3 separate regions of the Homo sapiens genome follow, and all the other regions are linked to region 1. Evidence: fine-mapped expression QTL. A gene starts in region 1. Each other region holds a variant in brackets. All regions are shown on one strand. Distances are between the middles of the regions.

The links. PIP is the estimated chance that this variant, and not a neighbour inherited with it, causes the effect.
Region 2: its variant is the best candidate, but not a certain one, in a credible set for the expression of IFT46 in T cells (GENCORD, PIP 0.85).
Region 3: its variant is the best candidate, but not a certain one, in a credible set for the expression of IFT46 in lymphoblastoid cells after a statin (CAP, PIP 0.64).

The regions. Positions count from the first base shown.
Region 1 is chr11:118,563,861-118,568,860 of GRCh38, forward strand. It overlaps IFT46 (intraflagellar transport 46), which reads right to left and starts at 2,071. Exons shown (of 12, transcript NM_001168618.2): 1 at 1,930-2,071; 2 at 1,105-1,201. LOC124902764 (a long non-coding RNA gene) reads left to right here and starts at 1,201. Exons shown (of 4, transcript XR_007062907.1): 1 at 1,201-1,514; 2 at 1,752-1,845; 3 at 2,342-2,426; 4 at 4,218-4,739. RefSeq lists an enhancer at 2,114-2,343.
Region 2 is chr11:119,370,224-119,381,459 of GRCh38, forward strand. USP2 (ubiquitin specific peptidase 2) reads right to left here. Exons shown (of 13, transcript NM_004205.5): 2 at 2,484-3,298. The coding sequence starts at 3,257. Among named protein-coding and RNA genes, the nearest start is that of USP2, 5.8 kb to the right of the region's middle. RefSeq lists enhancers at 2,737-3,237, 6,104-6,682, 6,999-7,587, 10,545-11,236. The variant C/T (reference allele first, on the strand shown) is at 5,775.
Region 3 is chr11:118,715,779-118,727,014 of GRCh38, forward strand. It overlaps LOC124902766 (endogenous retrovirus group K member 7 Env polyprotein-like), which reads right to left. Exons shown (of 3, transcript XR_007062912.1): 1 at 7,917-11,236; 2 at 4,415-6,297. Among named protein-coding and RNA genes, the nearest start is that of TREH, 42 kb to the left of the region's middle. RefSeq lists enhancers at 1-623, 624-1,431, 3,046-3,851, 3,890-4,631, 5,372-6,112 and 2 more. The variant G/A (reference allele first, on the strand shown) is at 5,278.

The sequences.
Region 1 (5,000 bases):
CAGTCTTACATGTCACCCCTTTAGGTCTTCCCTGACCACCCTATCAAAAGTGGGTTTCTGGCCAGGTACGGTGGCTCATACCTGTAATCCCAGCACTTTGGGAGGCCGAGGCAGGTGGATCAGTTGGGGTCAGGAGTTCGAGACCAGCCTGGCCAACATGGTGAAACCCCGTCTCTACTAAAAATACTAAAATTAGCTGGGTGTGGTAATCCCAGCTACTCGGGAGGCTGAGGAAGGAGAATCACTTGAACCCAGGAGGCGGAGATTGCAGTGAGCCAAGATCGCACCACTGCACTCCAGCCTGTGTGATAGAGTGAGACTCTGTCTCAAAAAAAAAAAAAAAAAAAAAAAAAAAGTGGGTCTCCTTCCTCACTGTTATTCTCCTTAACAGCAAACAATCTGCCTCCATCAGTGTGCACTTACCACATTTGGCATGTGTTTACTCATTTGTCATCTGCCTCCCATGATTACCAGCATCGGGATGGCAGGGACATTGTGTCATTTAACACTATTTACCCAAGTGCCAGGCATAAGGCTGGCACACAGTAGGCATTTTAAAATGCTTGTTGGCCAGACACGATGGCTCACACCTATAATCCCAGCACTTTGGGAGGCCAAAGCGGAAGGACTGCTTGAGGCTAGGAGTTCAAGATCAGCCTTGGTAACATAGCGAGGCCTCGTCTCTATAAAATTAAGAAAAAAAAGTTTGTTGAATAAATAAATAGTGTTCAGTCCTTTAAAAACATTCCACTGTGATTTTGGTTGGGGTTGCAGGCTAAGGGGAGGTTATGAAGCATCTTCAAAGCTAGGAAAAACATAAGTTAAAAAAAAAGAAAAGAAAAAGAAAAAGAACAGTGAATTCCTGGCAGACAGTGAGCAAAGCAGTAACATGAAGTAAATGGTGACAGGGTTGGATTGGGGGAAGATCCTGTAATTTGGAAGGCTATGATTTCTCCCCCTTAACTAGTCAGAAAACAAACAATGGCAAGTGAAGTAAATTGACGCTGAAAGTCAACATTTGCTATTATAAAATAAGAACTTCTTGAAGACAACCGTGAATCCATCCTGCTCTTTCAGTAGCATTTCTCTTCTTTCCTCTCTTACCTTGGTGTCTTGGGGTTGGAGTATAAATACTTGCAACCTCTTCGGAGTCGTTAATCTCTAGACGCTCATCATATGTCTGGTTTTCAACAACCTTGGTCTAAGCAAAGGGAGACATAATTCATAGCTCCTATCATGAGACATAAAGCACTCTGCCAGGAGGTATATTCCAAACCAGCATTGGCTCCTCTTCCTTACTCAAGAAACCAGTTTTTCACAAAACCATCACCCCATCCAAACTTTCCTTCAGGCTTCCTGGCCCTCGGTCAAGCAGTTAAGTCATTCTGTTGCAGCCCTTATTTAGGAACTGCTGGCAGGCTGGCTGAGGAACCAGGGAATCGTGGAGGGAAAGAGAGCCAACTTCTGCAGCTTCCCAAAGCTGTACGACCACGCGCAAGGGCAGAACACTATTTGTATGTAGATGGCCAAGGCTGTTGAGGTTTCTCAGGGAAGGCTGTAGAGGTTCTAGAAAGAGTTCTGTCTCTGGAGTCACCTCTGGGGTGGGGTGGGGTGGGGTGGGGTGGGGTGGGGTGGGGTGGGCTGAGGCGGGGTAGGGTGGGAGGGTCCCCGAAGAGAGGGGAAACTCCAGTCTCTCAGTCCCATCCGATAATCCCAAAATCATCACCTCCACTTTCACCCTTATCTTGCAGATAGGATCCCACCTAAGTTTCTTGGGGGAATAAAGGAAGCAGGACGGTTGGTGGTGAGGTGACGAAGGAACAGTTACCACGGAGATTGGAAGAGGTAACCGGGAATGGGGTAAAGGGGAGTCCTCTTAAGCCTCTCTAGAAAGACAGTTCCCTTTTTGCTGGGATGAGTACTAATTACCTGTAGCCCTTCTGAATCCGTCTCCTCTATAATGGAAAGAACCCCAGCCTAGGGCTGGGGTCTCACTCCAGTCTCAAAGCCAGGCCACTTTAGGATTCCACGCCAAGCAACCAGCCTGTTGTCAGTCGCTAGGCAAAAAGATAAATTTTAAAATTCGCGAGAGTTGCTTCCACTCTCGTGAGACCTCCTGCGCGTTAAGCCTCACCCGCGAAGGCTCTCCACGCAGGAAGAAGATCAAGGAGTCACGGATAAAGCCTCTCTGGGCGGCCAAGTCGCCTGTTTGTCTATGGTTTCAGTAAATACGTCTGTTGCGGCATCTAGCGGCTATGGGTGGCAACGCGGCTGATAAATTTCGGGCTGGTGTAGAGTTAGCCCTTCAATCTGGAAACAAGGTGTGCGTTTGTTCCCCTAGGACAACAATCTCTGGGGATGCAGTTGCTCCCAGATCAGTCTTACCAGGATGTAGACACATTCCAGGGGAAATTTCGCAGCACTCTGTAAGTCCTTTTCTAGCACTATATTACACTATAGTCTTTCCCCTCCACAGGGTGCCATGGAATGGAACATACTTATAGCAATAAATTATTCCTTGGGTATCTGAGGTTCAAATTTAACTCTGTGGGCCGGGCGCGGTGGCTCACGCCTGTAATCCCAGCACTTTGGGAGGCCAAGGCGGGCGGATCACGAGGTCAGGAGATCGAGACCATCCTGGCTAACACGGTGAAACCCCGTCTCTACTAAAAAATTCAAAAAATTAGCCGGGCGTGGTGGCGGACGCCTGTAGTCCCAGCTACTCGAGAGGCTGAGGCAGGAGAATGGCATGAACCCAGGAGGCGGAGCTTGCAGGGAGCCGAGATCGCACCACTGCACTCCAGCCTGGGCAACAAAGCGAGACTCCGTCTCAAAAAAAATTTTTTTTCACTCTGTGTCCTGTCTTTCTTATTTGCTAAAGTAGACTTTTAACTTATTTAAAGCAAGACCTGTGTCTAATTAATTTTTAAGCTTTGTAACACCAGTGTATTGCAGAAATTAGACACTAACAATGCTCATTGGGTGGATGAATCGAGGAATGAGTGAATGGAGATGTAAGGAACAAATATTTTCAAACTGTGGACATAATTAATTTGGGAAGTCAGGGAGAGAGAAACATAAAATATTGGAGGCCAGGTGCGGTGGCTCACACCTGTAATCCCAGCACTTCAGGAGGTAGAGGTGGGACGATTGCTTGAGTTCAGGAGTTTGAGACCAGCTAGAGCAACATAGCAAGAACCGCCCCCCTCCACTCTATTAAAAATAAAAAAAAAATTTTTTTTAATTAGCCAGGTGTGGTGGCACGCACCTATAGTGCTAGCCACTCGGGAGGCTGAGGCGGGGGGATTGCTTGAGCCAGGGAGGCAGAGGTTGCAGTGAACCGAGATTGGGCCACTGCATTCACTCCAGCCTGGGCAACAGATCAAGACCCCATCTCAAATATAAATAATGAATAATAACAATAATAATTTTTTGGTCGGGCACGGTGGCTCACGCCTGTAATCCCAGCACTTTGGGAGGCCAAGGTGGGTGGATCACAAGGTCAGGAGTTCAAGACCAGCCTGACCAACATGGTGAAACCCCCGTCTCTACTAAAAATACAAAAATTAGCTAGGCATGGTGGCGCGCGCCTGTAATCCCAGCCACTCAGGAGGCTGCGGCAGGAGAATTGCTTGAACCCGGGAGGTGGAGGTTGTGGTGAGCCGAGATCGCACCACTGCACTCCAGCCTGGGCGACAGGGCGAGACTCCGTCTCAAAATAATAATAATAGCAATACATTTTAAAAAGAAAATAATATTGGAAATTTGACCCTGAAAACCTACCAGAGGTAAACAAGGAAAGTGCCTTTAAAAAATGAGAGACAGCTTTTCTGGCATACTGATAGTTAAAAATAGAACTGCATTTAAAAAAAAATTTGTGATCTGTTTTGCTCGTAATAGTGGATATGTAATGTGCAGTACTTACTATGTAGGAGCACTTAGTTTTTTTGTGGGGAGCACTTAGATTATATCATCTAATTTACTTCACAACCTTATGAGATAGATGTTACTGCCAATCTACAGATTAAGTAATTGAGGCTTAGACAGTTAAAGTAACTTGCCTAAAGTCACTCATAATAAGCGCTGAAAATAGCAGCCAAACACAGGTCAGTCTGATTCCTAAGTCTCTGCTTTTAACCATTATAAGATACTGCCACTATGGGACTCCTCAAGAAGCATGCTTACAGGGTTGCTTTTTCTTCTGTGGTTTAATTCAGCTACCGTTATATTTCCGAAGAAGCAGCATCAACTGGTCTTTGCTGAGCTTCTGAGATCCAAGTTGGAAGCCCTGGAAGGTGCTACAATAAGGCAATAGTTTCTAACAGGATTTTTACTTTTCTAAAAAAATAAGAATTTGTTCCATGTTTCTTAAAATATGTCTGCTTTTTGTAACAAAAATTAAAATTGGGCCAGGTGAAGTGGCTCACGCCTGTAATCCTAGGACTTTGGGAGGCCGAGGCAGGTGGATCACCAGAGGTCAAGAGTTCAAGACCAGCCTGTCCCAACATGGTGAAACCCCCATCTCTACTAAAAATACAAAAATTAGCCAGGTGTGGTGGTGCATGCCTGTAATCCTAGCTACTCAGGAGGCTGAGACAGGAGAATCGCTTGAACCCGGGAGGCGGAGGTTGCAGTGAGTTAAGATGGCACCACTGCATTCTAGCCTGGGCGACAGAGTGAGACTGTCTCAAAATAAATAAATAAATAATAAATAAATAAATAAAAAGTTACCCCATAAATGTGTACAGTTGTTATCTTTTTTAGGACATTTCATCATCCCCTAAAGAAAGTTTGTACCCATTGTCACTTTTTTTTTCTTTTTTTGAGACAGGGTCTCACTCTGTCGCCCAGGCTGGAATACAGTGACGAGACCTCAGCTCACTGCTATCTCTGCCTCGGGGTTCAAGCGATTCTCCCACCGAGTAGCTGGGACTATAGGCATGGGCCACCACGCCCAGCTAATTTTTGTATTTTTAGTAGAGATGGGGTTTCACCATGTT
Region 2 (11,236 bases), 810 kb after region 1:
GGCACTGAAGGCAGGGACTGTTGCTCGCACACATCTCTTGCCTGCCAAAGCACCAGAAGGGTACAACAACGAGGACTAACATTTACTAAGCAACATGCCAGGCACTTTCACATACATTATCTTTTCATTCCTCAAGTAATCTGTGAAGTGGGAACTATGATCACTCATCTTACAGAGGAGGACACAAGTTCAGAAGCTAAGGGACCTATCTGAGGTCACGCTGCTAGTAAGCTGAGCACCACAAATGAGTGCCTCAGAAGGCAAGATCCCCAGATGGAGATCTAGAAAGAAACTGGACCCAGTTTTAGAAAGAAGTGGTCCAGGCCGCACGAGCAGGGTTGTTCTCACCTCAGCAAGACGCACTCTGCTCCAGGAAATGACGATAAGGGGTGGAGAGATCAGGGTGAGGTTAAATAAAGGTCTTGTACTATTGACCCTGGAGAGGCCTCTGCTGGTTGGCAGTATCTTCTGGGGCATGAGCTCAGAATGAAACACTAGCTCAACTGCAGGGCATTCCCGGCTAAAGTGCCTTATGAGTTGCTTCTGGATGAGGGTGGCTGAGTTTGTCCCAGGGCAATCTGCCACTTCTTTGAGGTCCTCTCTCAAAATTCCCTTCACCTTGGCCCTGGAGCCGGGGGGAGGAGCCAGGGTTGTCCCTTCTGGAGAGTTGGAGGGCGGCAGACTCCCAGGAGGGTTGGGCCATGCCTGTGTGGGGAGGAGGCAGATTCCCAGTGGAATCTGATCCCCAGTAAAGGGGAATACTGCTGTCATGATTGGGGCTGAGGGTGGGTCTGTAGTTTAGTCTGCGCTGAGGTTTTCCATCTCAGCATGCCTAGAGATCACCCAAAGAGCTTGTGGAAAGAGCAGCTTCCCAGGCCCCATCCCGAGAGAGTTTGCTTCAGTGGGTTTGGATGAATCGTTAAGCCCTGCAGTGACTCTGACACAGGCAGTCTGCAGACCCCACTTTAAGGAGCACTGCTGACCATGAAACAACCCTTCTCTTCTGAGCAAGGGGAGGGAGCCCCGCAGAGGCTTCTAGGACCCGAGCCCCTCCGAGGAGAGCCATATTCTAATTGCCCTGGGGTTGAACAGCACCAGCCGAGTCCAAGTGAGTCCTGCTCCACTCCAAGCCCAGCACGCAGCACCCTGAGAGCTGATACTTCCCCACCATGCCAGCTCTGTTGTGACACATCTCTCTTCTCCACTCCTTTCTACAGTGGATCCAGCCCTGCCTTGTCAAGTTCTGAATGTTCTGGGAGGCACCAGCGTTTCTATCTCCTGTGCCACTTCACAGATGGCACAACAAAGCCAAGACTCCCTAAGTCATATTATCAAAGTTGCTCTCTCAAGACCTTTAGTTATGCAAGCTTCAAGGTCCTGCCCCTATTCCTGAACCCCTGCTGCATTTGTCTGGATCAGCCCTCCAAGCAGTATTTCTTGCTGTGGCATGCTGTTGTTTTCAAAATGTATTTGTCCTAGGAGTAGGGAGGGGTACATAAGGTAATGGAGGAGACACAGCATCCAGCCCTTCTGCCCATATGCTTGCCTGTCCATCTGTCCACCCGCCATCTACCCGTGTATCCACCCACCCACCACCCACACATCCATCCATCCATTCATCCCTGCAATCAGCAGGTCAGCCCCCATTGTGGGAGGCACGTGGCAGGGGATCTAGAGATAGGATTTCTTTTTCCTCCTCTGAGAGCTTGCCACCTAATGGGCACACTAATAACTACAGAAAAGGCAGATGTCGTCAGTGCCCCAAGAGAGGCGTGTGCGGGCATTAGTTGGCGAGCGAGCCCATGCCAGCCCTTGGTCAGTCTCCAGCAGAGCCTCTTCCCTCATTCCAGCTGAGGCAGGGCTGGAATAGAGGTATTGGATTGTCTCAAGCCCTAGATAAAAATTTCTCCCCTACTTTCTCCAAAGCCAGATGATAAGCATTGCTGTCTGATACCCTGGTCCTGAGTATGCCAGTGTCACTCAGAGGAGAGTCCCTCTTCCCCTGATGTCTTATGTCCAAATGTAAAGCCAGGCCTTGGGGCTAGGGAATAAAGCCTGCACAAGAGGGGAGATGCAACCACAGCAAGGAGGCCCTCCTGCCACAGGGTGCACTGGTGGTCTGGGCCCCCCCGCATCCAGCCCAGGTTGGGGCAAGGCCTGCAGGAGACACTGGCATGTCACATAGAAAAGGAGAAGGTGAGAAGAGTGGTTCATTGGGCGCAGCAGAGCATTCCTGAGAACACTACTGGACTATCCTCGAGTGCGCGGGCCCTGAGTGGGCTTTCTAGGCAGAGTGGGAAGGCCCCTCCCCTCGGCACGGAGCCCCAGGGGCACCAGATGTGCCAGGATGACTTCTCTTGTTTGTCTCCACCAGGAGCAGCCTGTCAGTCATCAGTCAGGTTGGGAGTCGAGCCCTCAGCCTGGCTGTTCTCCATCAGTGGCTGCCTCCCCAGCCTATCCCCGGTCCCCAAGGGTAAACTCACCATGCCGTCTCTTCCCGGGGAGCTGGAGCGGCTGGGCCCAGGGGCCTGACCCTTTCCCGTCTCCCACAGCGTGTAGCGGCCAATGGGTCGGTAGGTTGGGCTGATGATTTCAGGGACTCGTGAGGGAGGGGCCTGGGAGGGCACCTGAGATGCACTGCCCTTGCGACCATAGTTCTCCAGGTAGTCGACCAGGTATTCAGGGCAGCTGGCTGTCTGGTAGAGCCCCTGCAGGGTGCAGAGCTCCTTGCGCGTCCGGGCCAGCATGGGGCTGCGGCCCAGGTTCCTGGGGTCTATCCGGTAGCTATCTGAGGTCCGGAGGCTGGAGAAATCCCGGGCCAGGTCTGATTGGCTGTCCAGCTTCTGGGTTAGGGTCACCCCCTGGTCATAGGCATTGATGGGCAGGTAGCTGAGGCAGTTGTTGGTCACTCCATAAGGGAATCCGCTGCCCCCGCTGAGGCCACTGCCTAAAGGCCGCTCAGTACCCCGGGTCTGGCTCTCTGCCCGCTTACCACCCCCAGTGATGTCGGGTCTCAGCAGGGGGCGGCCCCGGTCATAGTCCAGGAGGGAGGAGGGGCCATAGGTACGGGGACGGGTGAGGAAGCTGCTGGTGGGGACCGGCTTGAAACCAAGTTTCTCCTTCTCCAGTAAGGAGGCAGCCAGATTGGCCCCATAGGAGGACGGGGTGTAGGCACCATAGCCCGACTTGGCATAGTGGGCATCTGTGTAGCGGGCCGATTCTGTGTAGCGCTTCAGGGTGGAGGAGAGCTGGGACATCCTTCAGGGTGGCACTCAGTGGGGACTGGGAGCCTCATGGGCTGAAAGACAAGGAGTGTAGTTGTCAGAGGGCCCTGCCAGGTGTCGGGCTCCCACAGACCTGCTCCCCATCCTCAGCTGGGCCAGAACCTCAGAGCTCCCAGTCCATTTCCACAAGAGGCAGGCTGGCTGCTGAGAAGCACACATGCACGCAGGTGTGCACAGGAGCTTGCTTGCACCTGTGTGTTCACACCTCGGTGAGAGTGCGAGGGATGAGGTGGCTTTTATATGCCACACAGGAAGTCAGCGCATCCTGGCCATTCAAAGACTCAAACACGCAAGCAGGGGCTATCTGACCTCCACAGCCCACCAAGCCGTGCAGTCTTCCAGGTCAAATCCCATTGCCTCAGCATCTGCAGAAACTCTTGAGCTGGGGGAATGCCACTGACCCCTGGGTTGAGAATGCTGGATATTTCAGGAGTTAAGACCACATCTGTCCCTTCTGACTTATGTGATGAGCAGGTGTCTTTTTGGAATCCTAGACTGTCTGTGCTGGAATGACCTGAAGATCATTTGGTCAGATCCCCTGTGAGGCCAAGGAGGCTCAGGGGAGGAAGTAATGGGGTGTGGGTGGGCAGGGGAGGCCGTGAGTGAGCATGCAACAATGAGGGGCCAGAACGTGGTCTCCAGACCCTTTCCCCAGACACCAGCACCTGCTGCATGGTCCCACAGTGAGGGACACTCACTTCACTGAGCTAAGCTTCTGTTCTAAGTGGAGTTAGGGCCCTGTGGCCTCCTAAGAGTTCCTCTACCAACACAGGCTTCCTCTACAAACACAGATCTCAAATTGGTCCTGGCGATGCTTGTGCAAAGGGGGCCCCCTACAGTCCCAAATCTTGCACTGCAGGTGGCATTCCCAGTCCTTCCCTGCTCCAGTCCTGCAGCTGGGGAGGGTCTAGTGAAGGAACACAGACACTGCTGAATGTGGAGCTTTGAGAGCCCCAGAGGATCATGAATTTTAATCTATCTGTTATACAGATGGGAAAAGTGATGCTTATTTGCCCCCGGCCACACACCAGCAGAGCCAGGACTGGAATCCAGGTCTTTAAAATCCTGGCCAGTGTTCTTTCTACTTAACCTGGAGTTACCTCCCCCGCATCAGATTTAGGGTCAGTTGGGGACCCCCAGAGGCCTTCCATCACCGTAAACGTGCAGCCTGTATCCAATGGAGCTGGAGTGGCAGAGGAGCAAGTAGGGTCAGACGCCTTTCCCCGAGGGCATCAGGGGCTCTTGGGGGGCTTTCTAGGGGGATGGAGCAGAGCCATCCAGGACTCTCAGAGTTGTGGGACTTGCCCTGTGATGGACTAGCTGGGTGATTTTGCACTAGTCACGTAACCTCTCTGAGCCCCAACTTCCTCATCTGTAAATGAGTAAAACCATCATCCTCATAATTCCTACCTCACAGGGCTGTTGTGAGGAATAAATGAGATAACAACACGTGAAGGGCTCCACAATGACAGTGGCTACCATCTCCTCCCCCAGCTACTGCGAGGCAGCATGGCTCCGCCCTCTGAAGGTCTGTGATAATATCAGGGCTGGCTGTCTCCCAGCCTGGCCAGCCTCTGGCCTCAGCTTGGGATGCCAGGCCTCCCCCTGCAGCCCCCAGCGAGAGAAACAGGCAGTGGGCAGACATCTGGCCACTCAGCAGACACTGGCTTGGCAACCCAGCCCATTAGGGCAGAGAGGAGCTGGTGCCAAACCCCAAATGCGAGGGCTTGGCAGAAAGCTCTAGAATCCCAGTCCACACAAGGCTTTGGGGTAGGTACAGGGGTGAGAGATGAGCAGGTGGCTTCCATATAGGCCCGGAACAGCATTCCTTGACCCTGCCTGAGAACTCCAGCAGTTTTCAGTCCAGGCTGACATCAGAAAGGCCTGGTCCATCTTACTGTCTAGCCTTTTGCCACCTGGCCCAGGGGGCCCCTGGCCCTTCATGTACACTCCTTTGCCCACTGTGCCCAGCACAACTTTCACCCCTTTCTAGGAAAAGGTAACTGGGGGATGATGTCACACAGCGTTAGAGGGAAACCATAGCGGGAGAGACAGACAGAGGCACAGGGTCGGGGTGGGGGCCCAGTCCTGCCCTATTTTGCTTTGGAGAACTCCATCAATAATGCAAAGTCAAAGAGACTCCAGGTCTCAGGAGCTGGGCTCTGGGACACCAGGCAGCCAATCAGATACAATCCCCCCAACAAGGGTATGAGCTCATGGCTCCTCCCCACAGCTCTCCCTCTCCCTCCCCCACAGTAAGGCTCTCAGGGAATTGGTATTCTTCGGGCAGCGCCCCAAGCCCGTGACATCCCTTGACCCTGCTGATGACGCAGAAGTGCTGGGGCCAAACGAGGTCCAGAGGACAGGGACAGACAGCTCTGAAAGGCTTTGGAGCCGGAGGTGGGGCCACATCTCTGGCCCACAGATTCCCAGGAGGGCTCCCAAATCCCCACTCTCCCTCCCATCTGGCAGGTGATTGCCAGACCCCTC[C/T]GCCTCCTCCTAGCAGCCCTGGGAGTCATGCCATCACTAATACTCCATGGAAGCTGCCTCTCGGCTCTGACTTCTAGCTACAGTTCCCATGCCTGCGGAGAGGGTTCCTACTGGGGCCGGGGCCTTCCACATGTCTCTCCCCTCCCGCAACCCCCAGTTTCACTCTCAAAGGTCCTAGCACCTTCCAGGTGAAAGCACAGCCTGGGTTGGTGCCCCTTGGCATTACCTGCACAGCTGTCCCTGGAGGCCACAGAATGCACTATGGGCAGGAGAGCGGGCTGGGGCCCTGGCCGGAGTCTCGCTGCGCAAGACAGGGACAGGACGGGCACTCACGTGGCTGCGAGTCTCCCTGTTGCCACAGGAACAGCCTGAACTGAATGGCCCTTTCATGGGGCAGTGGGAGGCAAGCCAATTGGCTGGGATCCCCCATACCCCTCCCTGCCCAGTGCGGGGGGCCCCTGCTGCCCAGCTCCTTTCACTGTTTACCCAGAGCTGGCAAGTACAGGCATGCAGCTCCAGGCAGCGCCTCTCCAGGTGTCCGCCACCTTGGACAATGGGGGCAGTCCCCTGCCCAGCTCCTCCTCCTGGCCATCTTCACTGAGGTGTCCTGACCCTTCCTTCTCTGTCAGAGATTCCTGTTGCTTTGCTCAGTTTCCCTCTCCTGGGAGGTGCAGCAGAGTTCCTCTGCACAGAGGCACTGGGCTTCCTGTCAGGGCATCTGAGCCAAGCAGCTGTCACCCCAGCTGGCTGGTGCTGATCACCTCTGAACCAGGCCCCAGGCATGTTGAGTACTTCACATGCAGCTTCTGAGTCCATCTTCTCTGCAGTCTCACATCAGCTCTCATCGGCCCTTGCCATGTGACGCATTCTTCTAGATGTGCTTCATACACAGAGCACCCCAAAAAGTCTTAGTGCAGGTTTAAGCTGGGATTCTTTCAGACATAAATGTCTCCAACTTACACACCTCTTTGGACAGATTAAATTATTTAAATTAAAATTTAAAAACATTTTCACAATTAAAAAATAAATATACAAGAAATTTAAATATGGAAACTTTCAAATGAAGTTTTTAGCATTCATATTTCTGAAGTTATTAAAGCTTAAAACTGCACTAAGGCTTGGGACACAGTGCATTAACTCACTGAATCCTCCCTGCTCCTTTAAGCGGTAGGTGCTGTTATCACGTCCATTTGCAGATGAGGAAGTTGGCGATGCTGGGAGTGATGTGGATTTCCCAAAGTCACACTGGGAGCAGTGGCAGAGCTGGGCTGGACTCGTGCTCTGTCTGCTATATCTGGCCTGAAGCCCAGACCCCTGCTTCACTCTTCCCTGGCTCTCCATGGGACGGGTCAGGACTGGGACCTGTGGGTGGGGTTTGAGGGAAGGACCACCACAGGATCCAGGTGTCCGTCATCCAGTAACAGCATGCGGTGTACAGACTCTGGCAGGAGCAGCCCTCTGGATTTTCCACTGCAGGTGAATGAAAGTGAAGCCAGGTGCAACTCGAGCCCCAGAACAATACTGATAGGCCGAGAGATGGTCCAGGAAGCCTCCATTTCACCCACTGTGCCAAGCCCCTGCATGTCCCCTGGCACCAGCATCTACCCCAGCTCGGGGCCTTGGGTCCCTGGCCTGGTTATGAGCAAGTCCCTAGCCTCCTACCCTGGCTGCAGCTTGGCCCACTCCTCAAGGTACCCATGCTGGGTGAGTCAGGGGTTAAAATGAACCCTGTCCCCGTGGGGCAGCCAACCCCTTTGCTTCAGCCACTGTCATTTCCTGTTGCTCACATGAAGGGCTCCCTAACCTGCCCAGCCAGGGGAGGGACTTGCTCCCCAGGAATTCCAGGCGCTCCTGGCCCTGGGGGCAGGGGATGGGTGATGCCCCACATCCCAGTAACCTTCATGGCTTCTCTCTGCCCAGATCTGCTTGGCTTTCTGGGGTGAAAGCCTGCTTTGCTACTGGGGCCTGGATAGAGAGCCTCTAGCTGAGTTTCAGAAGCACGCCTAAACAGGGTTAAGTCTCTTCCCTCCTACTCAGGTGCCCGGAAAAGGTGAGTGGGGAGTCCCAGCCAGTCCCGCCAGGTGGTTGGGAGCCCCCACAGTGGTGACCTCAGAGCTTCCTAAAGCCACTTGCTAACAGCATCAGAATGTGCTGACCTTGAAGGACAAGGTGGGTGAGAGGGGGCCCTGTATCCTTCCATCTGCACTCTGACCCTGCCTCCCAGCTGCTTGGGTCACCTGCTGCACTATCTGGGCACAAGTGTCTGGTCCTGGAGGATGGGATGAGGGAATCCTGGCAGGTGTAGAGGACATGGGTAGAGTAGGGGATGGGGGGGCGGGGGCATATTTATGCTCAAACAGTCCTTGAACTCCGCCTACTCCTCTCAGGCCCCAGGGCCTGGGCTGGCCTCCTCCCCTCCAGCCTGTCACTAGGCTTTGTCTATCAGGGGCTAGCACCCGCTGATCCACCAGCCTAATCCTCTTGCCTCCCCTGGCAGGGGGTCATCCAAGGGAATTTGGGTCCATTTCTCTTTCTTGTGCTCCCAGTAGTTACCCAAGAGCTGGGGGAGGGGAGGAGGTAAGATAAAGAGACTGGAGATTAAGGCAAGAATCCTGACTGGTGGAGAAGAAGTGGATGGGCCCAGGGCAGTTTCTATAGGGTGCTCCTTGATTTGGGGTTGTGAGTGGGTGGGCATCTATACACTTCCAAGACAAGGCAAAGAAATGGGCCTCCAGGTAGTATTGGGATCCTTAAATTCTCTTTTCCAAGCACCTCTGCCCAGGTACTCTCCTGGTGCCCCCTCCCAAGGGGAGAGCCCCGGTCTCCTTCCTTCTCCTCTAGGGCGTCATCTTTCCTCTGTTCTCAGCCTCCGGAGGAGCCTTTGGTCTTGCCCCTGACACCCACCGGGCCCAATGGGGTGGCCTCTCACATGCTCTCCCAGATTCACTGATGTCTTTCCTCTAGGTAGAGTCCCAGAGAAGCTCAGATACCAAAGGGGCAGCTACTGACCTGTGTCCAGGGGCACTGGATGGGAGCTGGGGGCTTCTCCTTCCCCAGCAGGGCAGGGAATGCAGTGGAAAGCCCAGAAGCTGGAGCCTGACTCTGGGCTGGGTAATCCGGAGCTCAGGTTACTGACTCCGATATATATAGTATCTTATCTGACCTCGCAGACTCGCAGAGATGGCGAGTGCAACTCACTTGCATTCCAAGCCCCAGGAGAATTAAAGGGGCAGTGGCGTGCTCACCTTGAGGGGCTGCCCTTTCGGGCCAGTGCCAGCCAAGGAGGTCTGTGAGGACTCTTGGAAGGGGGGCATTTTGAAGGGGAACAATCGGGAGATTCAAGAGGAAAGAGCATTGAAAAGAGCACAGAGGGGTGGGGGTGGAACTTGAGACAAAAATATGGAGAAAGTGGATTTTCCAGAGCAGTCAGTCACAGAATTAGAGAACAGGAAGAAGCCATACAGTTAGCCCCACTCTTAATTTTGAGATAGAGTAGACCTAGAGAAAGAAAGCAGCTTGCTCAAGGGCATGTGCAGATAGCGAGAAGCAGAAAGGGGACTAGTACTCAGGTTTCAGTCCAATATTCTTTTCTAATGGACTTCTAGGCCTGGGATTGGAGGCTAGTTCTTTCCCTTATTGGCTCTGAAATAGTGGATAAGTCACTTAAGTTCTCTGAACCTTAGCTATTTAATCTGCAAAACGGGACTAATAGTAATAATAGTGGTCTATCTCAGTTGTGAGGATTAAATAAAATAATATTTGTAAATTTCATGGCCCATAGAGTTCAATAAACATTGATGATTATATTGAATACTTCCACTTCTTATTATAATTAGTGGTATTATTAATAATAGCGCCTTACCAGGTGAACCTTCCTAGGGAGAAAAGGAGGGTTACTCCTGGGGAAGTGTTCCTTTCTCTTTTTTTTTTTTTTTTTTTGAGACGGAGTCTCCGTCGCCCAGGCTGCAGTGCAGTGGCGCGATCTTGGCTCACTGCAAGCTCCGCATCCTGGGTTCACGCCATTCTCCTGCCTCAGCCTCCCGAGTAGCTGGGACTACAGGCTCCCGCCAGCACGCCCGGCTAATTTTTTTGTAATTTTAGTAGAGATGGGGTTTCACCGTGTTAGCCAGGATGGTCTCGATTTCCTGACCTTGTGATCCGCCCGCCTTGGCCTCCCAAAGTGCTGGGATTACTGCACTTTGAGCCACTGCTCCCGGCCGGAAGTGTGCCTTTCTAATGCCAGAGAACAGTCCCTTGGTTTTCTGAACTGACCATGTCCCATAACTGGGAAGGGCAAACAAGGCTTGCCATCTTCCTAGACGTCCAGTCCACCAAGCAGAGAAAGGCCAAGCCCATCTGGGCTCCTTCCCCCTTTGCCTAGAAAAATACGGCAAGTGCAGCTTCCCCCAGGCCACCAGGAGAATGCTTGGCCCCTCTGGGGTGGTTCCACTCTACCTGTGGGAGGGCTCAGGATTCCAGGGCCACAGAGCCGGGCTGGGCAGGGTCACAAGAGGAAGGAACGGGGTTCTTAGCCTCTCTGGCCTTGGTGCACTTGTCTGCTCCCAGGACGTTTCTCGATGGCTCTCCCCGAGGACTGGGAGTACCCAGCCTGGTGCCTCCACCCTGTCTTAGCACAGGCTACTGACTCAGCCCAGGTCCTAATGATGCACTTCAGAGGACGCCCTCATTCCAGTCCTCATTCTGACTCCAGTCTGACATGCATCTACAGCATCAAAGGAGGGGGCCTGCCTCGACCTTAGCCCAATCAGCTCTCCTTTCCTCTGCTTTACGGGGGTCCATCTGGGGGATGTTCTCATGCCCATTCCAGGGGAGGTGAGCAGCCCCTACCACTACCTCCAGCTCAGTCCCATTCTAAAGGCAGCCAGGTCAGGAGGTAGGATGTTCACTCTTCAGGGAAGGGCTAGAATGGGTTGGCTAGGGCTTCCCTTGACTGTTGAGAAGTTGCTCTCTCCGGAGCACCGCGTGCCTGCTTCTGGTTTGGGACTGGTGAGAATTTCAAAGCTGCCTCTTTCTGGTTTGGGATTGGTGGAAAATCTCCCCTTCCGCTTAATTGTTGCCCAACCCCCGCCCCTAACCCCCTTTAGCAAACTGACCGGGGAGCTTTAAGAGCAGCGAGTGAGCTGCACGCACACGTGGGGAGGGGGTTTGTCAGTGTCGCTCAGGCCACATACCACCGATATACACGGGGCACAGCGAGGAGGACCCGCCAAAGCAGCATTTCCTTAGAATACACTGATCAGCACACAGTTGGCTCTTCCTGGCACCCTGGGCTGTCAGCAGGCAGCCCTCACACAACTGGCAGACACAGCTGGAGCGTCCCTGCACAGCCGGCTCTCTCCCTATATTTCTAGTGTCCACTCTGCCCAGAATGTCGTGGACACCTTACTTTCTGAGCTCCAAACCGGCACTGATCCCCGAATCCCCCCTCCCGGATCCCCGAC
Region 3 (11,236 bases), 160 kb after region 1:
AGAGGCCTGTGGCTGCTCCCCCGACCACCCCAGCATGGAAATAAAACAAAAACCTTGAGTTCCTTCCTTCAAGGGAAATTCCAGGCACCTAGCTGACCTTGAGAAGTAAATGAGCAACTTGATAAGCCAGAAAGTGTGAAAGGAAGAATAAAATCTTGGGAGCCCAAATTCACTATGCCAAAAAGGAAAAGTTAAGTGTGGAAGCTGAGTCACGGGAGGGGGCGGGAACAAGTGCCTTTCCTTTTGTTTCTAAACTGATAGCTGCAGATGGAAGGCCACAGGTGGCCTCCTTCACCCTGACAATGTAAATTAACAGCTTATCTTTGCAGGCGGGGGATGAGGGTAGGTAAGGGACAAGAGGAGACTAGAAATCATCGTCCCCACCCACTCCAAGATAAATGCATATTTGACTGTTTCCTGTACTCTGTTTATTTTGTCTTATGTAAAGTGCCAATTTACCATGTGAGATGAATACAGAATTGACTGTTCCTTTTACCCCCCGCCCCCACCCCCTTTTTTTTTTTTCTTTTTTTGAGACGGAGTCTTGTTCTGTCACCCAGGCTGGAGTGCAGTGGTGTGATCTTGGCTCACTGCAACTTCTGCCTCCCGGGTTCAAGCGATTCTCCTGCCTCAGCCTCCCCAGTAGCTGGGATTACAGGCGTGCATCACCACGCCTGGCTAATTTTTGTATTTTTATTAGAGATGGGGTTTCGCCTTGTTGGCCAGGCTGGTCTCAAACTCCTGACCTCAGGTGATCCTCCCACCTCGGCCTCCCAAAGTGCTGGGATTACAGGCGTGAGCCACCGTGCCCGGCCTTCTACTCCCTTTTTTTCCTGTGCAACATGTGGATTCAGTGAGCTTAAACAAAGCCGCAAAACAAAGTGACCATATCCTCCCTCTTTTTTTTTTTTTTAATGTTCCCTTTCCCCTCCTGCCTGCTTTTTCCCCTTTACTTTTTATTTTTATTTTTTGAGATGGCGTCTCTCTCTGTCACCCAGGCTGGAGTGCAATAGCGTGATCTTGGCTCACTGCAACCTCCGCCTCCCAGGTTCAAGCGATTCTCCTGCCTCAGCTTCCTGAGTAGCTGGGATTACAGGTGCATGCCACCACACTCGGCTAATTTTTGTATTTTTAGTAGAGACAGGGTTTCACCATGTTGGTCAGGCTAGTCTCAAACTCCTGACTTTGTGATCCAGCTGCCTCGGCCTCCCAAAGTGCTGGGATTACAGGCCTGAGCCACTGTGCCCGGCCACTTTCATGCACGTCCGTGTAAAGAGACCACCAAACAGGCTTTGTGTGAGCAATAAAGCTTTTAATCACTTGGGTGCAGGCAGGCTGAGTCCAAAAAGAGAGTCAGTGAAGAGAGATAGGGGTGGGGCCATTTTATAAGATTTGGGTAGATAAAGGAAAATTACAGTCAAAGGGGGTTGTTCTCTGGCAGGCAGGAGTGGGGGTCACAAGGTGCTCAGTGGGGGAGCTTTTGAGCCAGGATGAGCCAGGAGAAGGAATTTCACAAGACAATGTCATCAGTTAAGGCAGGAACGGGCCATTTTCACTTCTTTTGTGGTGGATTGTCATCAGTTAAGGCAGCAACCAGCCATCTGGATGTGTACGTGCAGGTCACAGGGGATATGATGGCTTAGCTTGGGCCCAGAGGGCTGACATTCCTGTCTTCTTATATTAATAAGAAAAATAAAATGAAATAGTGGTAAAGTGTTGGGATGGCGAAAATTTTGGGGGATGGTATGGAGAGATAATGGGGGATGTTTCTCAGGGCTGCTTCGAGCGGGATTAGGGGTGGCGTGGGAACCTAGAGTGGGAGAGATTAAGCTGAAGGAAGATTTTGTGGTAAGGGGTGATATTGTGGGGTTGTTAGAAGAAACATTTGTCATTTAGAATTATTGGTGATGGCCTGGATACAGTTTTGTATGAATTGAAAAACTAAATGGAATAAGAGAAGGAGAAAAACAGGTATAAAAGGTCTAAGAATTGGGACGACTCAGGACATCTGATTAGAGAGTGCCTAAGGAGATTCAGCATAGTCCTGCCAGCAAAGATTATTTATTTACTTCAAGAGGTAAGAGTGGCAGTTTGGGGATAGCACCAGGAGATATCAGCTGTGATGGCTTAGAGAAACAGTGTAAACCGGCAGTGTAAACAAGAGCAGAGCATGTATGAGTAGTTGAGAACGGTGAATAGGAGTATGACTAGACAGAAGATAGTAGGGATGACAAGTTTTTTTGGGGGCACGGTGGAAGTTGGTCTGATGTCTGGAATGAGACTGGGGCCTAATAAAAAGGAGCATCTATACAGGAGCTCAAATGGGCTGTACCTTGTAGCATTCTGAGGACATGTCTGACTTCTGAGAAGGGAAAGTGGTAAAAGTATTGTCCAGTCCTTTTTAAGTTGGTGGCTGAGCTTGGTGAGGTGTGTTTTTAAAAGACCTTTAGTCCGTTCTACTTTTCCTGAAGACACAGGACAGTAAGGGATATAAAGGTTTCACTGAATACTAAGAGCCTGAAAACCTGCTTGGCTGATTTGACTAATAAAGGCTGGTCTGTTAACAGACTGTATAGAGGTGGGAAGACTAAACTGAGGAATTATGTCTGACAGAAGGGAAGAAATGACTGCGGTGGCCTTCTCAGACCCTGTAGGAAAGGTCTGTACCTATTCAGTGAAAGTGTCTACCTAGACTAAGAGGTATTTTAGTTATCTGACTCGGGGCATGTTGAGTAAAGCTAATTTGCCAGTCCTGGGTGGGGGCAAATCCTCGAGCTTGATGTGTAGGGAAGGGAGGGGGCCTGAATAATCCCTGAGGGATAGTAGAATAGCAGATGGAACACTGAGAAGTTATTTCCTTGAGGATAGATTTCCACGATGGAAAGGAAATGGGAGGTTCTAAGAGGCCGGCTAGTGGCTTGTACTATAGCATAACCTGCCTTTGCTGGTGTGTGGCGATTAGGCCTGGTGGAAACCACCATCAATAAATCAAGCGTGATCAGGGTGAGGAACAGGAAAGAAGGAAATATGGGGAAATTGGGTGAATGTCAGGTGGATCAGAGAGATACAGTCATGGGGGTCAGGTGTGGTATCAGGAATAATGTGGGAGGCCGGATTGAAGTCCGGGCCAGGAACAATGGTAATTGTGGGACTTAACAACGAGTGAGTACAGCTGAAGGAGCCAGGGAGCAGAAAGTATATGCGTCAGGTATGAGGAAGAAAATAGATTTTGGAAGTTATGAGAAATGTAGAGAGTAAGTTGAGCATAGTTTGTGATTTTGAGGGCCTCTAAAAGTATTAGGGCGGCAGCAGCCGCTGCACGGAGACATGAGGGCTAGGCTAAAACAGTAAGGTCAAGTTGTTTGCACAGAAAGGCTACAGGGTGCGGTCCTGGCTCTTGTGTAAGAATTCTGACCGCACTAACCATGCCTAGGAAGGAAAGGAGTTGTTGTTTTGTAAGGGATTGAGGTTTGGGAGATTAATCAGACATGATTAACAGGGAGAGCACGTGTGTTTTTATGAGAATTATGCCGAGATAGGTAACAGATGAGGATGAAATTTGGGCTTGACTGAAGTAATGGGGGCTGTCTGTGAAGCCTTGTGGCAGTACAGCCCAGGTAATTTGCTGAGCCTGATGGGTGTCAGAGTCAGTCCAAGTGAAGCGAAGAGAGGCTGGGATGACGGGTGCAAAGGAATAGTAAAGAAAGCACGTTTGAGATCCAGTACAGAGTAATGGATTGTGGAGAGAGGTATTGAGGATAGGAGAGTATATGGGTTTAGCACCATGGGGTGGATAGGCAAAACAATTTGGTTGATAAGGCATAGATCCTGAACTAACTTGTAAGGCTTGTCTGGTTTTAGGACAGGTAAAATGGGGGAATTGTAAGGAGAGTTTATAGGCTTTAGAAGGCCATGCTGTAGCAGGCGAGTGATAACAGGCTTTAATCCTTTCAAAGCATGCTGTGGGATGGGATATTGGCATTGAGCCGTGTGAGGGTGATTAGGTTTTAATGAGATGGTAAGGGGTGCATGATTGGTCACCAAGGAGGGAGTAGAGGTATCTTATACTTGTGGGTTAAGGTGGGGGAATACAAGAGGAGGACGCAAAGGAGGCTTTGGATTGGGAAGAAGGGCAGCAATAAGATGCAGCTGTAATCCAGGAATAGTCAGGGAAGCAGATCATTTAGTTAAAGTGTCTCAGCCTAATAAGGGAACTGGGCAGGTGGGGATAACTAAAAGGAGTGCTCAAAAGAGTATTGTCTAAATTGGCAGCAGGGTTGGGGAGTTTTAAGAGGTTTAGAAGTCTGGCTGTCAATACGCACAGCAGTTATGGAGGCAAGGGAAACAGGCCTTTGAAAAGTAGGTAATGTGGAGTGGGTAGCCTCCGTATTGACTAAGAAGGGGAAGGACTTACCCTCCACTGTGAGATTACTTAAAGCTCGGCATCCGCGATGGTCTACGGGGCTTCCAAGGCGATCAGGCAGCATCAGTCTTCAGCTGCTAAGCCGAGAAGGAGTCAGTCAGAGAGCCTTGGGCCAGAATTCCAGGGGTTCTGGGAGTGGCTGCCAGGTGAGTTGAACAGTCCGATTTCCAGTGGGGTCCCGCGCAGATGGGACACGGCTTAGGAGGAATCCTGGGCTGCAGGCATTCCTCGGCCTGGTGGTCAGATTTCTGGCACTTGTAGCAAGTTCCTGGGGGAGGAGGTTCTGGAGGAACGCCTGGCCACTGCGGTTTAGGCGTTTGGAAGTTCTTGTGGGCTGGAGATGTGGCTGGGGTTTGTCTCACAGTAAAGGCAAGGAATTGCGACTTTTTTCTATTATTGTACACCTTGAAGGTGAGGTTAATTAAATCCTGTTGTGGGGTTTGAGGGCTGGAATTTAATTTTTGGAGTTTTATTTAATGTCGGGAGCAGATTGAGTAATAAAATGTATATTGAGAATAATACAGCCTTTTGACCTTTTAGGTCTAGGGCTGTAAAGCATCTCAGGGTTGCTGCCGAACGAGCCATGAACTGGGCTGGGTTTTTTATATTTGATGAAAAAGAGCCTAAACGCTATCTGATTTGGGATAAAGAAAAAGGAGCATTAACCTTGACTATGCCTTTAGCTCCAGCCACCTTTTTAAGAGTAAATTGCTGGGCAGGTGGGGGAGGGCTAGTCACGGAATGAAACTGTAAGCCGGACGGGTGTGTGGAGGGGAGGTGATAAAAGAATTATAGGGTGGAGGAGCAGAGGCTTGAAGGGGTGGGTTGCCCCTCCACACCTGTGGGTGTTTCTC[G/A]TAAGGTGGAACGAGAGACTTGGAAAAGAAAAAGACACAGAGACAAAGTATAGAGAAAGAAATAAGGGGACCCGGGGAACCAGCGTTCAGCATATGGAGGATCCCGCCAGCCTCTGAGTTCCCTTAGTATTTATTGATCATTCGTGGGTGTTTCTCCGAGAGGGGGATGTGTCAGGGTCACAAGACAATAGTGGGGAGAGGGTCAGCAGACAAACACGTGAACAAAGGTCTTTGCATCATAGACGAGGTAAAGGATTAAGTGCTGTGCTCTTAGATATGCATACACATAAACATCTCAATGCTTTACAAAGCAGTATTGCTGCCCGCATGTCCCACCTCCAGCCCTAAGGCGTTTTTCCCTATCTCAGTAGATGGAACGTACAATCGGGTTTTATACCGAGACATTCCATTGTCCAGGGACGGGCAGGAGACAGACGCCTTCCTCTTGTCTCAACTGCAAGAGGCATGCCTTCCTCTTATACTAATCCTCCTCACACAGACCCTTTATGGGTGTCGGGCTGGGGGACGGTCAGGTCTTTCCCTTCCCACGAGGCCATATTTCAGACTATCACATGGGGAGAAACCTTGGACAATACCTGGCTTTCCTAGGCAGAGGTCCCTGCGGCCTTCCGCAGTGTTTGTGTCCCTGGGTACTTGAGATTAGGGAGTGGTGATGACTCTTAAAGAGCATGCTGCCTTCAAGCATTTGTTTAACAAAGCACATCTTGCACAACCCTTAATCCATTTAACCCTGAGTTTGACACAGCACATGTTTCAGAGAGCACGGGGTTGGGGGTAAGGTCATAGATTAACAGCATCTCAAGGCAGAAGAATTTTTCTTAGTACAGAACAAAATGGAGTCTCCTATGTCTACTTCTTTCTATACAGACACAGTAACAATCTGATCTCTCTTGCTTTTCCCCACATTTCCCCCTTTTCTTTTCGACAAAACCGCCATCGTCATCATGGCCCATTCTCGATGGTCGCTGTCTCTTCGGAGCTGTTGGGTACACCTGCAGACTAACAACAGACAAAACAGGCACACAAGGATTAATATGAGATTTATAATTGTAGTACTTCCGATGGTCTTAACCCAAGTGACAGGGTTAAGATTTGCGAGGCCATCAGCAACTCCTGCAATTGCCTCAGTTCCTGGCACCAAATTTAAATGGGCTTTTGATGCTTCAAAAATTTTTTCTTTTAATTTGGAAATGTCTAAAGTGAGATTATCTTCTCTTCCCTGTAGATGGTGTCTAACCATGTCCCAGTGATGCTCAGACTCATTATAAATTTGGGGTGTAATACAAAAGTCTGACGTATTGCAGTCACACTGTAACTGGAAACGACGTTCTAAGCTCATGAGTCTGTCTCCTATCCAAATGAGTTTGTCTAAGATGATTAATTTGATTTGCCAATTTTTGATCAATACTAGATTGTGAATTCCACAATCTTGCAGAATTCTTTTGCCAATCATTAACAAAGTTTACCGACTGAACAGAAGAGTGCAATGCAACTCCTGCCACAGCAGCCGTAGCTGTGACTGCAATTAATCCCATAATCACTGCAATTAAAGTAAAAATGAATCTTTTGGATCTATTTAAAATGCCTTTTAATACTTCAGTCAAAATATGGATGGATGGCGAGGCCTCCCACGGTCTGTCCATGGACACAGGGATCCACACGCCTTCTCTTGCTCTCACCAGCAGAATACGCTGCTGCCAATTAAAAGTTGAATCAATGCAAGTAAACAATCTACAATTTTCACAGGTTATAGTTTGGGAGTCTGGTTTAATAACTATATTTCCTACAACTAGCATATAAGGGGGCTTTACGCAACTCTGTAAAGGAACCGTTAGACTGGAATTTAGGTCGATAGTATAAAATGGCTTACGATCTCTTGTTTCTGAAGTTTGATTTCCAGACCAAATTCTAATGTGGTGTGAGGCCACAATAAGCCTCCATAATTCTGGATGTTCAGGACCAGAAACAGGACTTATTATTTTTGGTCTTGGGGTAGAGATTCCTTTTTCTCCCCATTCCCAAGGGTACAAAGACTGTAATTTTTTATGCTTATGTTTGTCTAGACTTTCTGTTAAGTCGCTATCAACAGCTGGACTCACTTGTGCACTTGGACACAACTGAGTTTGTCCTGAGCAATTGTGATCGAATTGACCTCGAGGTGCCCAATCTATAATAGTTCCGAATTCATTGTTTTGTAATATCACCGCACTATTGGCCACACATTCTTCCCAAACTAAAACTTCTGTATTTTTTGATTCTTTGGGAATTTCCTTGGGGCAAGGTTTTCCTTTAGGTCTAAATTTTAATGATCTTTGATAAGAAAAGTCCTGTAAATAATTTACTCGTGGCCTGAGTGACATCCCGCTTACCATGTGATAAGTGAATCTACCGTTAGGACTGACAGTAGGTACTTCTACCAACCAATTTTGGACTGCATGTATTAAACATCCTGGTGCTCTCCCTAGGCAAATAGGATAACGATACCCAGTGGAAATATTTATCATTATCCCTTCTTCCTCAGGTTTGATAGGGCAGCGATCGTCTGTGGGGCCAGGTACCCGTACACTATCATTAACATATACTTCTATAGGATTATCCATCCATGTGACTGGTGTTACCATCTCTGTGGAGGCCCTTTTCTTTGCATCTCCGATGGGTTCATTGTAGAACTTCAAATGTCTAGTGGGTATCCAAACAGGAAGCTGATTTTCTCCTGGTGAAACACAAGCAAACCTCTCCCCCACGTTATCACCTTCCCTATTTCCCATGTCTTATTTTTATTATCTTTCCACCAAATTAGTTTTCCTTCATGTGGGCTGTTCTTTTTACCAGTAAGATGTTGTTCTGCAGAAGTAGTAGTCTGATTTCTATAAATGTTTAAAAAAATTTAAAGTATAGAGTGCTAGATTAAGTTGCATCTGAGGAGTGGTACACTCCTTACTGTCTCCCCCTTCTTTTTGTTTAACTAATTGAGTTTTGAGTGTTCTATTAGTTCTTTCAACTATGGCCTGTCCTTGGGAATTATAAGGAATTCCTGTTGTATGTGAAATTTTCCACTGACTTAAGAATTTTTGGAAAGCTTTACTACAATATCCTGGTCCATTGTCAGTTTTGATTTTTTCTGGAACTCCCATGACAGCAAAACAAGACAATAAATGTTTTTTAACATGGGAAGTACTTTCTCCTGTTTGGCAAGCTGCCCATATGAAATGTGAAAAGTATCAACTGTTACATGAACATATGATAATCTTCCAAATGAAGGAACATGCGTGACATCCATTTGCCATAACGCATTAGGACACAGACCTCTGGGATTAACTCCTGCCTCTTGAGTGGGCAGGTGTAAGACCTGACACTGGGTGCAATGTTGTACAATATCTTTTGCCTGTTTCCATGTGACATCAAATTTGTTTTTTAATCCTGCTGCATTTGCATGAGTCAAAGCATGAAGTTCTTGTGCTTTTATGAATGCAGATGATACCAGTAAGTCAGCTTGTTCATTTGCTTTAGTCAAAGGCCCTGGTAAATTAGTGTGTGCTTGAATATGAGTAATATAAAATGGGAAATTTCTTTTTCTTACAGTTTGTTGTAATAAATTGAATAGCTGGTTTAACTGATCATCCATGCTATATTTAATTAGAGCTGTCTCAACATCCCTTGTAGCCTGTACTACATATGCAGAATCTGATATAATATAGATAGGTTGGTCAAAATCTTGTAACACTGTAATGACTGCAACCAACTCTGCTCTTTGAGCCGATTGATATGGAGTTTTGATTACTCGTTCTTTCGGCCCTGTGTAAGCCACTTTTCCATTGCTGGAACCATCAGTAAATACTGTTAGAGCATTTTCTAAAGGTTCACGTCTGCTAATTTTAGGTAGAATCCAAGTAGTCAATTTTAAGAACTGGAAGATTTTTGTTTTTGGGTAACGATTGTCAATAATTCCCACAAAATTAGCAAGACCAATCTGCCATGCACCAGAATTGATAAAGGCTTGTCTAACTTGTTCCTTTGTTAAAGGGACAACTATTTTGTCTGGGTCATTTCCACATAATTTTATTATTCATAATCTTGTCTGACCAATTAATGTAGCTATTTGATCCAAGTACAATGTAAAAGTCTTAACTGTACCGTGAGGAAGGAATGACCACTCCACAAGATCAGTATTTTGAACAATGATGCCTGTTGGAGAATGTGCAGTGGCAAAAATCAAAAGTTGGAATGGGGCTAAGGGATCTATTCTATTTATTTGCGCTGACTGAATTTTTTCTTCCACTAATTTAATTTCTTTTGTTGCCTCTGGGGTTAACATTCTTTTACTATTTAAGTCTGAGTCTCCTCTTAAGATAGAGAACAAATTTGACATGGCATAAGTAGGAATGCCTAGAGTTGGCCGAATCCAATTAATATCTCCCAGCAATTTTTGAAAATCATTTAGTGTTTTTAATGTGTCTTTCTTATTTCTATTTTTTGTGGCTTAATTTTTCTATCTGCATCCCTAAATAATGAAAAGGAGTAGAGGTTTGGATCTTATCAGATGCTATTGCCAGTCCTGCATTGGCAACCTCGGCTTGCAGAAATGTATAACAGTCAATTAATTTATCTCTCGTTTCTGCAGCACATAAAATATCATCAAAATAATGAATAATATAGCCGTCTGAAAACTTGTCTCTAACTGGTTGAAGAGCTTGACCTACAAAAGTCTGACAAATAGTTGGACTATTAAGCATTCCCTGAAGTAACACTTTCCACTGAAACCTGGTGGCTGGTTCTTTATTATTTATGGCTGGTATAGTAAAGGCAAATTTTTCGCAATCCTGCTCCACCAGAGGGATGGTAAAAAAGCAATCCTTTTGATCAATTATAATTAAAGGCCAATCTTTTGGGATCATGGCCAGAGAGGGTGACCCAGGTTGGAGAGGCCCCATGGGTTGAATTACAGCGTTTACGGCCCTCAAGTCAGTTAACATATGCCATTTGCCGGATTTCTTCTGAATTACAAACACAGGAGAATTCCAAGACGAGAATGAAGGCTCAATATGTCCCTTTTCTAACTGTTCATTTGCTAATAAATGTAAAGCCTCCAGTTTTTGTTTTGGTAGCGGCCACTGATTTACCCACACCGGTTTTTCTGTTTTCCAAGTTAATGGTATGTGTTTAGGAGGCTCTACAGTGGCCGCCCCTAACAAGGATACCCTATTCCTTCTCTTTCTTGATTTATTTTAGCCTCAACTGGAACTTTAATGCCATCTTCATTTTTCCCTAGTCCCTTTCCTGGTATATATCCCATCTTGGTCATGATTTTTTGACTCCTGGGGCTATATAATGGAGAGGGCATGGTGATTTCCACACCCCATTGTTGTAATAAATCTCGACCCCACAGATTAAGAGGAATTGAAGTAATCATGGGCTGAACAGTACTTTCTTGATTATCTGGCCCTAAGCAATGTAAAATCTCAGTACTTTGATACACTTCTGAGGCTGTGCCTATGCCGACAAATCCTGTAACAGCCTTTTGTTTAGGCCAATTTTTTGGCCACTGATTTAAAGCAATGATAGAGACATCTGCTCCAGTGTCTACCAACCCTTCAAACTGTTTTCCTTGAATAATGGCCTTACACACAGGTCTGTTCTTTGAGACCTGACTTGCCCAATATGCAGCCTTTCCTGTCAGATCAGTGCTTCCAAACCCTCCTGTTCTTTTTATTTCACTATTTCCAACCTTAATATATGGCAGGAGTAATAATCGAGCAATCCTGTCTCCTGGACTGGCACTCCAAGGAATTGAAGAGCTAATAACCAATTGAATTTCGCCTTTATAGTCTGAATCAACCACACCAGTATGAATTTGAACTCCTTTTAGATTTAGACTTGATCTTCCCAAGATTAGTCCTACAGTCCCCTCAGGCAGTGGGCCATATACCCCTGTGGGGAT